Linked DNA regions of Homo sapiens: all the other regions are linked to region 1. The links come from fine-mapping of genetic effects on gene expression. A gene starts in region 1. Each other region holds a variant in brackets. All regions are shown on one strand. Distances are from middle to middle. Region 1 holds the start of HACD1 (3-hydroxyacyl-CoA dehydratase 1). Region 2 overlaps STAM (signal transducing adaptor molecule). Region 3 overlaps STAM (signal transducing adaptor molecule).

What was found. PIP is the estimated chance that this variant, and not a neighbour inherited with it, causes the effect.
Region 2: its variant is the best candidate, but not a certain one, in a credible set for the expression of HACD1 in whole blood (TOPMed, PIP 0.82).
Region 3: its variant is the best candidate, but not a certain one, in a credible set for the expression of HACD1 in follicular helper T cells (Schmiedel 2018, PIP 0.76).

The regions. Positions count from the first base shown.
Region 1 is chr10:17,614,906-17,620,002 of GRCh38, forward strand. HACD1 (3-hydroxyacyl-CoA dehydratase 1) reads right to left here and starts at 2,469. Exons shown (of 7, transcript NM_014241.4): 1 at 2,178-2,469. The coding sequence starts at 2,434. RefSeq lists a silencer at 2,010-2,669.
Region 2 is chr10:17,667,058-17,672,154 of GRCh38, forward strand. The region is part of intron 2 of STAM (signal transducing adaptor molecule); the gene reads left to right. Among named protein-coding and RNA genes, the nearest start is that of STAM, 25 kb to the left of the region's middle. RefSeq lists an enhancer at 4,032-4,786. The variant G/A (reference allele first, on the strand shown) is at 2,381.
Region 3 is chr10:17,674,634-17,679,730 of GRCh38, forward strand. All of the region lies in intron 2 of STAM (signal transducing adaptor molecule), which reads left to right. Among named protein-coding and RNA genes, the nearest start is that of STAM, 33 kb to the left of the region's middle. The variant T/C (reference allele first, on the strand shown) is at 2,067.

The DNA.
Region 1 (5,097 bases):
TGGCGCCCGGCTAATTTTTTGTATTTTTAGTAGAGACGGGGTTTCGCCGTGTTAGCCAAGATGTTCTCGATCTCCTGACCTCGTGATCCGCCCACCTCGGCCTTCCAAAGTGCTGGGATTACAGGCGTGAGCCACCGCGCCCGGCTCCGGAAACGTTTATTAACCAGACTATCACAGAGGTGAGAGAATTCTTTCAGTTCCGAATGCATTTAAAGGCAGCATCATTTCGTGATTGCTGAATTGTTGTAAATACATTAGTTTTCTCACTTTCCAAGAGTATAATTTAGGAGGAAAGAAAGATGAAGTAGCAGGACAGTGGAGTCAGAGAGTCCGGGTTGAAACCCATGTCTGACTGACACTTGCTGGCTGTGATCTTGGGCAAGTATCTGTGCCTCACTCTTCTAATCTATATAATGTAATATCATGTGCCCCTCACAGGACTTTAAAGGACTAAAAATACACCTAAAATAACCAACACAGTCCCCTGCATAGTAAGTCCTCAGTAAATAACATTTGTATGAACTGTATTTGGCATTCAATATCATATGCTAAGCACATAATAGAAACTCAATCACCATAGGTAAAGATTTATTAAATTTTTGTCAATCACATTTTTCTATAAACCCTGGAGAAAGTTTAAAATATTAAGCCGGAAGTGGTAATCCCAGCACTTTTGGAGGTTGAGGTGGGAGGATTGCTTGAGGCCGGGAGTTTGAGACCAGCCTAGCCAACACAGTGAGAGGCCATCTCTATTTTTAAAAAATTAAAATAAAATATTAGGCCCGGTGCGATGGCTCACACCTGTAATCCCAGCACATTGGGAGGCCGAAGTGGGGGAATCATTTGAGGTCAGGAGTTCGAGACCACCCTGGCCAACATGGTGATACCCTGTCTCTACCAAAAATACAAAAATTAATGGGGCGTGGTGGCCCACGCTTGTAGTCCCAGCTACTCCGGAGGCCGAGGCAGGAGAATCGCTTGAACTCCGGAGGCTGAGGTTGGCAGTGAGCGGAGATCGCGCCAATGCACTCCAGCCTGGGCGACAGAATGAGTCTCCGTCTAAAAAATAAAATAAAATACTGTCAGGGCGGGATGGCTCACGCTTGTAATCCCAGCACTTTGGGAGGCCGAGGCGGGCGGATCATGAGGTCAGGAGATGGAGACCATCCTGGCTAACATGGTGAAACCCCGTCTCTACTAAAAATACAAAAAAATTAGCCAGGCGTGGTGGCGGGCGCCTGTAGTCCCAGCTACTCGGGAGGCTGAGGCAGAAGAAAGGCATGAACCCGGGAGGCGGAGCTTGTAGTGAGCCGAGATCCCGCCACTGCACTCCAGCCAAGACCGAGCGAGACTCCGTCTCAAAATAAATAAATAAATAATAAAAAGAAAAAAAGAAAATAGTAAACTTTTCCTCGCGTTTACATAAGTTAATACTTCGAGTGATAATGGGAAAATAACTTTTTTAAAAGGCAGTGCAATTGAGAAATGGAAAAGCATTTTCCCAACAGGTTTTGAGAAGCAGTTGACACAAAAGTCACTTTGAGAGCTCTGCGAAGAGCGACAGTCATTGTGTAACCTTAACTTGCAAAGTCATACTCAAAGCCAAAAATCAAGGTCCAGCTTATCAGCCACGGAGCCTGAGGCCATAAAGATGCTGGGCAGGAGCTCCACGCTGGGATAAGTGGGGTGGTTATTTCAAAATCGTCCCAAGTGACAAGCTCTAGGACGTGCTGTGCTTTAAAAAAAAAAAAAAAAAAAAGTCGCGGTGAAATTAACAGGGGCGAAAACTCTGCCCAGCGATCGCAGCATGAAGCTCTGCGCTCCCGAGACCATCGAGTGGCCAGGGCTGGGCGCTCCTTCAACAGCAGCGAAGGCAGCGGCGCCGGGGCAGCAGCCACCTCCCCCGCGGGCCGGCACCGCATTCCTGCCCGGTTCTATACTTAACCTCCGGCCAGCGCCCCGCCGTGCACCGTATTAGGCAATGCCAGGCGCGCAGGGCCCGGCCCCCCCGCCCGCTCCATTCAACCCCGGCGGTGGCCGCGGCGACAGCTCCCTTCCCCCACGGCCGCTGCCCGCACCCCCCGCGCCCCTTACACCCCGGCCCGCGCCCCCTGAACCCGGAACCTCCGCGGACCGCGGCGCGGGGAGGGCCCGAGGGTGCCCCGCGGCGCGCGTACCCCGCGGTCATGGCGATGTCGTAGAAGGTGAGCCAGGCGGTGGCCAAGACCCCCAGGCGCCTCCGCTCGCCGGGAGCCTCCCGGTCCTCGCCGGCCTCCGAGGCGCCGCCGTTGGTGCCGTCCTCGTCGCTGGACGCCATGGTGGCCGCGCACCTGGGGGACGTGGGAGACAGCGGCAGGAGCGTGGGAGGGGACCCTGCCCAGCCTGCAGCCCGAGAGCCGCTGCCCGCTGCCGCCGCTTCCGTCAGGCGCCCCATGTGCAGCGCGCAGGGGGCTCGGCGCAGCCAGCTCTACCGACCGCGAGGGGGAGGAGCGGACGCCCCCGGCCACCGCCCGTCACGCCCCCGCCCCGCCCCGCCCCTTGGGAGCGCGCGCCACTCGGGGGCCAGAACGCCTGGCCCTGGCACTGGGGATCCAGGACCCGCGAGCCCCGGCACGCTTTCCAGGCGGCGCTGTAGTTTCCGCTCCCGAGGAAAGTGCACCCGCCTCGCTAGCTGCGGGCGCCTCTTCATAGAGAGACGCCCAGACGCCTTGCGCCCTGGCGATGCGCACCCTGCGAGTGCATTTAGTGGGGACACAGGGAACGCACCTGAACTTGGCGTGGCTCTGCCCTGCCTGGCCTTTTGTAAGGCAGTTTCTCAATACGCAGGCAGGGAGCGGGATCTTCCCGCCACTCATTCTTTTCTTTTTAGAGATGCGGTCTCAGTCTGTCTCCTAGGCTGGAGGGCAGTGACGTGAACATAGCTCACTGCAATTTCGTGAGCTCAAGCAATCTTCCCACCTCTGCCTTCCAAAGTTCTGTGATTACAAGCCTGAGCCACAGCGCTGGGCCAAACATTCATTCATTCTTAAGAGCTTCTGGGGAAGAAACGCCTATTTCGCCCTGTTTCCCGTTTACTAGCGAGTCCAACAGGTCTTCCAACAGTGAGAAGACCGTCCCACTTGAGTGATTTTTTTTTCCTTTTTCATTTCTTATTTTTTTTTTTTTTTACAGTCTGGAGTGCAGTGTTGTGATCTCGGCTCACTGCAACCTCCGCCTCCCTGATTCAAGAGATTCTCCTGCCTCAGCCTCCCGAGTAGCTGGAACTACAGTCATGCACCACCACGCCCGGCTAATTTTTGTTATTTTTAGTAGAGACGGTTTCACCACGTTTGCCAGGCTGGTCCCGAACTCCTGGCCTCAAGTGATCCACCCGCCTTGGCTTCCCAAAGTGCTGGGATTACAGGCGTGAGCCACCGCACCCGGCCTCACTTGTGTGAATTTTACCGGAGCGTGTGTGTGTGTGTGTGTGTGTGTCTGTGTGTCTGTGTGTCTGTGTGTGTGTCTATTTACCAAGTGTCAGGCCTCTGAGCCCAAGCTAAGCCATTATATCCCCTGTGACCTGCACGTATACATCCAGATGGCCTAAAGTAACTGAAGAATCACTAAAGAAGTGTGGCCGGTTCCTGCCTTAACTGATGACATTACCTTTTGAAATTCCTTGCACCTACTGAAATACAACCCCCAAATTCCTGAATCCTCCCATTTTATTAGCTGTGTGAACTTGGACAACGTAACCTATCCATGCCTCAGTTTCCTTAGTGGAAATAATTTTTAAAAATCGTGAGCAGAGATCGCCCGTTGCACTCCAGCCTGGACGACAGAGTGAGACTCTGTCTCAAAAAAATAAAAAAAAAAGGAAAGGAAGGCTGGGTGTGGTGGCTCACCCCTGTAATCCTAGCACTTTGGGAGGCCGAGGTAGGCAGATCACTTGAGGTCAGGAGTTTGAGGCCAGCCTGACTAACATGGTGAAACCCCGTCTCTACTAAAAATACAAAAATTAGCGGGGCATGGTGGCGGGCGCCTGTAATCCCAGCTACTCAGGAGTTGAGGCAGGAGAATCGCTTGAACCCAGGAGGCACAGGTTGCAGTGATTTGAGATCGCCCCATTGCACTCCAGCCTGGGTGACAGAGCGAGACTTCTTTTCGAAAAAGAATAAAAATAAAATAAAGGGAAGAAAGAAGTAAAACTGTTTGCAAATGAGAGCAATGTGTTTCCTAGAAAATCCCAGGAATCTCGAGGAATCCTAAAAAAAAAAAACCTCCTGGAACTACAAGATCAACATAACAAAAATCAATTGTTTTTCTACATGTGTACACGGAACAACTGGAAAATGAAATTTAAAATAAACCATACAACGTTAATCAGCATCCAAAAACATGAACTATATAGGCATAAATTTCACAAAATATGTGTGAGACGTATACACTGAAAATTATAAATCATTGCTCAAAACTATAAATCTCTGCTGAGAGAAATGAAAGATCTAAATAAATAGCTGTTGCCTGTTCATGAATTGGAAGACTCCATACTGTTAAATGTCAATTCTCTCCAAATCCCAGCAGATTTTTTTTTAACTTGACAAGCTAACTATAAAATTCATGCAGAGGTACATAGGAAGAAGAAAGTTGGAGCACATATACATCTGGTTTAAAGACTTACTATAAAACTAGTTTTCAACACACTGTGGTACACATAAGGTGAGACATAGAAATCAGTGAAACAGAATCAAGTCCAGGGATAGACCCATATGTATGTGGTCAATTGATTTTTATAAGAAGCTAAGGTAATTTCCATGTGGAAAATATAATCTTTTCAGTAAATGAAATGACTGGATACCCATATCAAAAAATAAATCTTACCTCACACCATAGATAAATATTAAGTTGAAATGAATGACAGACCTAATCATGAAGCTATAATTACATAATTTCTAAGAAAATACAGAACAATCTTTGTGACTTTGGGGAAGGTGAAGATTTTGGAGGTAGAAAAAAGCACTAATCATAAAAAGGAAATAAAAGACAGATTGAACTTCATCAAAATGGGAAACATCTGTGTTTTCAAGACAACATTAAAAAAGTGAAAATATTCACGAC
Region 2 (5,097 bases), 52 kb after region 1:
AAATCTAATTGATATTTAGGATTCTTTTATATAACTTAAAATAGCGGAAGTGTTCCAGCAGAGTTAAATAATTTTTTTTTTTTTTTGAGACAGAGTTTCACTTTTGTTGCCCAGGCTGGAGTGCGATGGTGCGATCTCAGCTCACTGCAACTTCTGCCTCCCAAGTTCAAGCGATTCTCCTGTCTCAGTCTCCTAAGTAGCTGGGATTACAGGTGAACGCCACCATGCCCGGCTATTTTGTATTTTTAGTAGACATGGGGTTTCAACGTATTGGTCAGGTGGCCTTGAACCCCTCACCTTGTGATCTGCCCTCCTCAGCCTCCCAAAGTGCTGGTATTACAGGCGTGAGCCACCGCATCCAGCCCATAGAATTTTTTTTTTAAAACGTGATCTTGATTTCCATGTTTCACTCAGTTTCGTAACATGGCAGAATTTCTTTAATTCGTTTCATTCTCTTTGCGTTCGTCATTTTTTCTTTTATTTGTCAAATACTGAATGCCAAATATCATGCTTTGGCTATACAGTGGTGAATAAAGCAGGCATAGCCTTTGCCGTCAATGGTGCTAATATTCTAATGGTGGAAGATGTGAAATAAACAGATACTAACAGATGATGGTCAATAGCTAAGAAGCTAGTAACCAGAGTGCTATAATGGAAAATAAAAAGGTAGACTGGTATGAGGGGGTTACGTTTATGCTATAATTTTAATGTTGAAAAGAGACAGAGTTCAAAGCACTGCATCCCAGAAAGAAGCAATAGTCTGTAGGTGAATGCTGAATGCTACAAGGTAGAGAAAACTTGATGCCTTCTAAGAACTTGAAAGTTACAGAGTAGCTGGAGCAGAAGTCAGTTGCCCTGAATGAGCGCAGAGCTGGGTTTCAGAGTGAGTTAGAAAAATAGAAGATGATGGTTGGAAGGTAGGATCCTTTAAATTAAAACTATAGAGGGTTTTCAGTTATTGGTAATGACAAGGTCTGATGACTCCAAGGTCCATCGGAGTTAATAAGATGTGATAGAAGTTGAAAAGCCAAAGTGTTGAAAGCATCACTTACACTGTTATTAAAAGCTCCAAGAATTAGGACAGGAGTGATGTTGGAGAGAGAGGCAGTGATCCAGTAGCTAAAATAATTGACAGGTGAAGGGGCATTTGAGATTTTTAAATAAACTGCAACATGAGGGGACTGACGTGATTGGAGCTGGGCAGTTTTAGGAAAGAGGGAGAGTGGTTTGGAAGAGGCAAGGGAAATGAATGCACATTGCTTAGCATAATGCATATTGAACAGATAGTACAGAGGTCAACTCCGACACAATTTCCCCAATTATTCACATATTTCATTAGTGTATATATTTGTTACAAGATATGAACCAATATTGATACATTACTATTAACTAAAGTCCATAGTTTGCATTAAGGTACACTTTGTTTTGTACAGGTCAATGGGTTTTGACAGTGTATATAATGACATGTGTCTACCATTGTGTAATGCCACGTATCTGTCATTACAGTACCATGCTGAATAGTTTTATCACCTTAAAATGACCTGTGCTCCATCTGTTCATTCCTTTCCTTCCTCTCTTTGCACTTTAAACAGCCACTGATCTTTTTACTGTTTACAAGTTTATCTTTTCCAAATGTTGTGTAATTGGGATCGTAGACTATATAGCCTTTTCAGACTGGCATCTTTCACTTACCAGTATGCATTTAAGGTTCCTACGTGCCTTTTCGTGGCTCAGTAGTTCATTTCTTCTTATTGCTGAATACTCTTCCATTATATGGATGTTCTACAGTTTGTTTATTAACCTACTGAAGGACATCTTGTTGGCTCCCAGTTTTGGTGATTTTTAATAAAGCTGCTATAAACATGAATTTGCAGCCTTTTGTGTTGACATCGTTTTAAGTTCAGTTGGGTAAATATGTGAGAACATGATTGCTAGATCATATGGTAAGACTGTTTATCTTTGTTAGAAGCCACCAGACTGTCCCCACAGTCTCAGTATGGTTTTGTTTTTTACATTCAAGTCTTTGATCTATTTGGAATTTATCCTGTTAGGCAGTATGAAGTATGGTTCTAACTTTATTCTTTTCTATTTGGCTACCAAATATCCCAACACCATTTACTGAATCGTCCATCTTTTTTTCTTCTGATTTGAAATATTTCTTTTATATATTATATTTGCATATGTATTTAAGTCTGTTTTTCTCTTTTGACCCGTTGGTATGTGTCTAAACACATTCTGCTACCACATGGTTTTAATTATTAATATGTTTTGACATTTGGTAGGATATGGTCTTGAGGTTTTTTTTTTTTTTTCCGGAAATGTTGTTTTAGATATTCTTTCCCCTTCCTACTCTCATTAAATAAACTTTCAAATTGAGTTG[G/A]CTGGGTTAAAAACAAAACTTTCTGTTTAAATTGGCCTAGTTTTAAATTAACAAATTTATGTCTTTATGATATTAAATCTTCCTATCCGAGAACATAGCATCTCTTTTTGTTTATAACCTTTAGTAGTGTTTTTAAGTTTTCCTCTTAAAAGTCTTGTACATTTTTTGTAATGTTTCGTCTGAGGTATTTTGTCCTTTTTGCTGCTGTTTCAGTGGGGTTTTTCTTTCACTGATTGGGAATTTCCCTTCTTTTTCTTTCTTTCTTTTTTTTTTTTTCTGAGATGGAGTCTCGCTCTGTCACCCAGGCTGTAGTGCAGTGGCGCAATCTCAGCTCACCGCAAATGCCGCCTCCCAGGTTCACACCGTTCTCCTGCCTCAGCCTCCCCAGTAGCTGGGACTACAGGCACCCGCCCCTATGCCCTATGCCCGGCCAATTCTTTTCTTTTCTTTTTTTTTTTTTTTTTTTGTATTTTTAGTAGACACGTGGTTTCACCATGTTAGCCAGGATGGTCTCGATCTCCTGACTTCGTGATCCGCCCATCTCGGCCTCCCAAAGTGCTGGGATCACAGGCGTGAGCCACTGCGCCCAGCTGGGAATTTCCCTTCTTAAAGGGTAGACGGGATTATAGCATCTGTGTATCTGGAAGAGAATGATGCACTTTGAGGGGGAAATTGAGATGATGATTCAGGAGAGAATTGGGATAACAACAGAAGTCAAGTTGTTGACTAGGCAATAGGGAATGGGATCCGATGCGAGCTGATTTTTCTATCTTTACTTGCCTAGACAATGATTTTACTTTTTTATTTTACTAAGTCTTAAAAACATCGTATATTTTATAGAATGAGACTTATAGAATTCTGATGACTGTTGTGCTTGTTTTGCAGATGAGAAAACTAAAGCCCTGAGATTTTTAATGTGACTTGTCTAAAACGAGTGAGCAGAGGCAAAATTAGAAGTCAGATTTCTTTACTTCCCATTTTATGTTTTTTTCTACCTTCACTGTGCTGTGTGCTTAGGTGCTTGTATGAGCAGTTATATTTGAAGGTTAAAATTATGAATCAAGACATACCAATCTTACATTAAAGTTTTTGGTGATTCCTCTCTCCCCATACGTTATGTTACATTGTGTTTTGTTTGACTGAAATATACCTTAGTGTTACATGGTCTAGAAAACTCAAAATATCATCGTACTGAATTTAATCCTCAATATTTTAGTTCAGCATGTAGAAGTTTAGTTTATCTGCTTTTCTAATGAAGTCCTTTGGGACTTACATGAACATGTTTGTTAAATAATAGTCAAATAACATCACTGTATATATTTATATTCACGTTCCATTATCTCATAAGAAATGCCTACTTAATAAGCTTAACATTAAGGGAATAATTTGATATTTGTACTCTATATTTTGCTCCTTTTATATGTTGTGTGGATTATGTTTTATGTAATGTATGTTACAAATCAAATTTGCATTTTGAATATGTTCAGTATATAAAGATTGCATTATTTCTGTTGTGATTTCTTTTGTACTTTTATATTAGAATTCTCTTACAGTCTGTGACATGCCTTCATGCTTATGAAAGGCATCTAAATAAGGCTCTACTCAGTATTCAAGGAGCATTCATATTATCTCTTAATTTCTAAAAATATTTAGTTCATTCAGCAAAGATTTGAGTTCCCATGTCTTTTAGCTGCTGTGTGTCTGCTAGGTCCTGGTATACTAAGACCTATAAAAGCTATGCATGCACATACTCCTCCTTCCTCCAATATAGACGTACATATGTCCTTGAATGGTAAACCACAGTAAAGCTTTTTTTGTAGCATTTTAGATGAAGATGTAATGTTTAAATCACTCTAAAATAACTTTGAAAGCTACAGTTGTAAAAGCAAAGATAAAAAATGAAACATTTTTGTGCTTTCAAGAACTAACATTGTTGAGAGTCTCTAAATCCCTGGCATGAGTCTAGGAGTTTTGTATTAACATTCTGATAAGGAGGTATTAGACATCTCCTCTTTTACAGATGAGGTCTGTCAAAGCTTCAAATCGTTTTTCTACTGTATCACAATGCTTCTTTTGTTTAGTAATGGTTTTCAGCCTGGGTGGTATTGCTCCATTAGGGATGGTTTCAGGTGTCCCATGACAGGCGGGTTACTACTGATGTTACTGATGTAGTAACTAGCAGGGATCAGGGATGCAACATGCCAGATAGTCTTTCACTAGTGTCCTTGTACGTTTTTAGTCTGACATAGGTTATTAGAGGTTAACCATGCAAACATATTTGTTAACCATGTTTTTTATTATTGCTATTGATAATTTTTGTTTTGATCATTTTTCTTTTATATTTGCAATACTTTTAGGCAAATACCCTGTTATTTTGTTATGTCCTGAGAGAGGGATAATGAAGAGGTGATATCCTCATTTTGAAAAGTTGATTGGTCTAAAAATCATTTATTAATTTAGTAATATATACAGGAATTAGAATTTAAATTTACTGTCTTTTCAATGACAATAATTTCCTTTAGAGTATACAATCTTCCTGTCACTGCTCGGCATATGGTTTTTATGATACTAAAAAGTACTTTTCAACTGAGATATAGAGCTATTTGAAATAGGAGAATTTTCAAAAGTTTTATACAGCATAGGATGTCACAAATCTTGACTCCTTTTTCCAACAATAGCTTTAAATATTCTTGGCTTCCTCCTATATAGCAATGGAA
Region 3 (5,097 bases), 60 kb after region 1:
TATGTGTCTCAGAATGTCACTTCCACTATATTTTATTGGTCAAGCAAGTCACTGAAGTCAGTCCAGGTTCAAGGGGAGGGTTGTTAGATGTCACCTCTTGAAGGGAAATGGTAAGTTCATGTCAAAGGAATTATTATCATAGTTATCTTTGGAATACATAATTTGCCTGAGGCCTGTTAGTTCCATAAGTGTTGAATCAGAACTTTGAACTTAACAAAACAATGAAAAATACCATTAGGAAAAAATAATTCTAATAAACAAAATTATAAATTCCACTTTTGATACTTGAGACACTCAATCCTTAAGAATGGAATGACAAAATGTGATACAAGGGTTTCTTCATTTTTAAATCTAACATTTAATTATGACTTTTGACATGGAAAAAATTGTTCTGTGTTGAAAGATGTACCCATTTGTGTGTATTTATAAATATGAACAGCTGACAGATAGGGAATCTTAACTGATTAGGTAGTCATGAAGATTTTCTTTCATGGTGCCTTTTCATCGCTTGGTTTTAGACACATGGCCTGATACAGCTTTTAGTTTATGAACATTCATAAAAGCCTAATTAAAGATAATAGCATTTTTTGGCTGGGCACGTGGCTTACGCCTGTAATTCCAGCCCTTTGGGAGGCCAAGGTGGGTGGATCACCTGAGGTCAGGAGTTTGAGACCAGCCTGGCCAATGTGGTGAAACCCTGTCTCCACTAAAAATAAAAAAATCAGCTGAGTATGGTAGTGCCTGCCTGTTATCTCAGCTACTTGGAAGGCTGAGGTGGGAGAATTGCTTGAACCCGGGAAGTGGAGGTTGCAGTGAACTGAGATCGCACCACTGCATTCCAGGCTGGGAGACAGAGTGAGACTCTGTCTCAAAAAAAAAAAAAAGATAGTAGCGTTTTCTGAAATTGATGGTTTTAAACATGATATTGTAGTTTATATAAAGTTTGGACAACTATGTTTATGTCACAGTTTTAACTTATACAGGGATTCACTTAAGTTTTAGAAAAAAACACTAGGCTAGACTATGAACTTCATGAAGCAGGGTCAGTCTCTTCTTGTTCACTACTTTATTCCTAAAGCCTTGCATAATGCTTGTCACCTAGAAGGTAATTAATGAACGTTAGTTATGGAAAGTATTATTAACAGAGTTCTTTGGTACCTATTGAATTTTTTTTTAACAGTGACTCTCTAATTTTTATGGCGGTGATTCACCCTGAAAGTCTTGCTTACCTAATTAGATTAATCCAAAGGGCCGGTATCCTTTTGCACTGATACCTACAAATAGCACTCCATGTGGTGGAATCAGATTATCTGAGTACTTCCAACACGATGAATGGGCAAAAATGAGAAGTTTTCTTAATTTACCATTAGATCAGAGAAGTGACTGCTGATAGAATTCATTAAAAAAAAAATCTGTCCTTTGCACATTTGCCCTAAGAGCTTCAAGTTCTGCAGAGTTTGTGTTTTGTTTGGGAAATTAGAAAGGTCTATTGCAAAAGAAAGCACAGTAGCACAGTTTGGATATTTGTGTGTGAAGATTGATTGATTAAGGAAGGTTCACGACTTAATTTTCATTTACTTCCAGGCATGAGCTGACTTATTTTTAATAGTTATGACTTCACCTAGAAACTGAATGGTTGAGAGTGGTATAATGGGGCAGGAGTGGGTATAGGGAGGATGTGATAGAGAGGAGCTCCATCTTAAATCTCCTTTCTTTGAATCTGACAGTGCAGTTTGTTGAGATAGGAGTAATACTGGTAAATAATGAAATTGAATTTGATGCTTTCAGTTCATCAGCTGACATATGTAGGCAGTTATGTACATTCCTGCAAAGTCTGTTCTTTGTCTGGTCTGTGATTTGAGAAAAAGACATTGGAAGCTGCAACGGTATAGAAATACTGCCCCCTTTTCTTTTACCCTCTTACGAACTATATGACCCAGATCTATTCATAAAAAGATGATTTTGTGGATGAACATAGTTTTGGCTGTTGTGACCATAACATCCAATTTGCCTTGGACAATTGTAGTTTATGCCTGCTGTTCCTCTGTTATGTCCAGTTAACACCA[T/C]CTTTCACTCGCGAAAGGGTACTGCCATAGAGAATGAATTATATAGACACCATGCTTGTAATCAACTTTCATTTGTCATTGGAAGGATAATAGCCAGAAGTATACTCACGTTAAATTCACTTATAATCCCCAAACCTTTTTAAAAAGTAGTGTTTTAACCATACTTTTAATTACTTGGTAAGATTTAATAATTATACATATATATATATATAAAAGTTCAGTATTACCTATCTGGTGGAAATACTAAAAACTGAATTAAAAATGCATAGGACAGAATGAAACAGTTCATAATAGTGGTTAAGTTCTGTTTTGTAGACAGTTCTGAAGGGATTTTTAAGCTAGTATGTAAAAAGATACTGCTGTGTTTGCACAAACAAGGTGTTCATCAGCGCTTCATTCTTACTGGCTTTGCAGCTCTGTCCTTTTAATGGTTCAGTAGCCAATTTTATTTTGGTGCCAGAGATATCTTTGCTTTGGTTTTTACAATTGGCTGTGGTAAAACAACATAGGAATGTCTAAAATAAAAAGGAATAGTTTCATTTCAACACCCCTTTCCCCACCATCCTTTCCAAAAGTCACAGTTTAGGTTTCCTACCTTAAAAAAAAGTGGTTTATAAACAAAATACATAATCAATTTTATTTAACATTTGGTAAAGAAAGTATACAGGATTATTTTCTAAAATATTGAGCTGAATCATCTTTAGATTATTTTTTACTGATTTTAATTTTAGTATTCAAATAATTCTTTATATCTGGCCTTTACCATGCATTGAAATGATTGTTTTGTGTTTTTATGTCGGCATGGTATTCACAACTGCAAGTCAGTATGGGGTCACGGACCCTGGCTCCTAAAATAAGTCCAACTGTGAAAAAGGCAAAATCTAAATAATAGTGTTAAAGTACATAATTTCTTCAGTCTAATGATGCTGCTATCCAAAAATTTTAATCTCTTACAAAATCAGTAAAGTAGAAGAAAAAAGTTTTAGGATTAAAAAAATTGAATGCTTGGCACATAATAGACATTCAGTCAATATTAGTTCTTTTGTGTGTTGTTTCTCCCTTCACCATGCTCTTTAGGTGGAAGCAGCCTCACAGGCAGTTGAGCATCCTTAAAATCAGGAATCCTACCTTGTATCCTAATTTTTCTATATAATTATTAAAAAGGATTTTTTTGTATTTATTACAGTGCTAACTAATTATACTTAAGCATATTGCTTTGCTTTCCAGGGCTCATTGGAGTTCAAATTGCCCGATAAAAGTTTTTACTTTTATAAATACATATATATTTCACATACCATCAAATTTACCATTTTAGAATATACAATTCAGTGGGTTTTAATATGTTCATAAGTTTGTGCAACAGTATCTAATTCCTGAACAATCATCATCCCAAAAAGAAAGCTGTACTCATTAGCAGTCACTCCCATTCCCACCTCTCCTCATTCCTGGAAACCACTAATCTACTTTCTATCTGTGTGGATTTGCCTGTTGTAGACATTTCATATAAATGGAGCTCTGCAATACATGTTCTTTTGTGATCAACTTTCTTCATGTGGTGTAATTTTTTTTTTGGAAGACAGAGTCTCGCTGTGTTGCCCAGGCTAGAATGCAGCGGCACAATCTCAGTTCACTGTAACCTGCACCTCCCAGGTTCAAGCGATTCTCCTGCCTCAGCCTCCTGGGTAGCTTGGATGGGGTACATGCCACTGTGCCTGGCTAAGTTTTTGTATTTGTAGTAGAGATGAGGTTTCACCATGTTGGCCAGGCTGGTCTCGAACTCCTGATCTCAGGTGATCCGCCTGCCTCGGCCTCCCAAAGTGCTGGGATTATAGGCGTGAGTCACCACGCCCAACCTCATGTAGTGTAATTCTTCTGAGGTTCGTTTATGTTGTAGCTTGTATTAGTACTTATTTTATTTTGGTAAAATATATTTAACATAAAGTTTACTATTTAAATCATTTTTAAGTGTATAATTCAGTGGTATTTAGTACATTCACAGTATTATGCAACCAACACCACTATCCATTTTCAGAACTTTTTCATCATCCCACGTAGAAACTCTACACCTTTGAAATAATGGCTGTCCATTTCCCCTCCTAGCCACTAGTTACTTTTTTCTATGTTCTATCTTTATGAATTTGTCTATTCTAGATACCTCATGGAAGTGGAAACATAGAATTTTTTGTGCTTTTGTGTCAGACTTATTTCACTTAGCATAATGTTTTCAAGGTCCATCCATGTTGTATATAGCATGTGTCAGAATTTCCTTAAGGCTGAATACTATTCCATTGTATATCACATTTTGTTTATCCATTCTTTCGTTGATGGACATTTGGCTGTTGTGAATACTATTAATACTACTCTGAACATGGGTGTACGGATATTGGTTAGAGTCCCAGCTGGATTATATGTGGTTATGCTTAATTTTTTGAGGAACTACCACACTTTTCACAGTAGCTACACCATTTTACATTCCCACCGGCAATGTACAAGGGTTCTAATTTCACTACATCCCCTCCAATATTTGGTATCTTTCCTTTCTTAAAAAAATAGCCAGCCTAGTGAGTGTGAAGTGGCATCTCAATGTGGTTTTGATTTGCATCTCCCTAATTGCTAGCGATGTTGAGCATTTGTTATGTGCTTATTGGCCCTTTGTGTATCTTACTTGGAGAAATGTCTATTCAAGTCCTTTGCCCATTTTTGAATTGGGTTGTTGTTCGTTGTTGAGATGTAGGAGTTCTTTATATATTCTGGCTGTTAATCTCTTGTCATATATATGATTTGGAAATATTTTCTCCCATTCTGTGGGTTGACTTTTCTTTATTGATGGTATCCCTTAATGCACAAAAACTTTTAATTTTGATGTTTAATTTGCGTGTGTTTTTTTTTTTTAAATGAAGTGTTGATGTTAATTTTTAAACATTTGGTAGAATTCACCAGTGAAGCTTTCTGTTTCTGAGATTTTCTTCGTGGGAAGTTTTCTTAATCAGTAATTTAGTCTTTTTACTTGTTACATAGGTCTATTCAGATT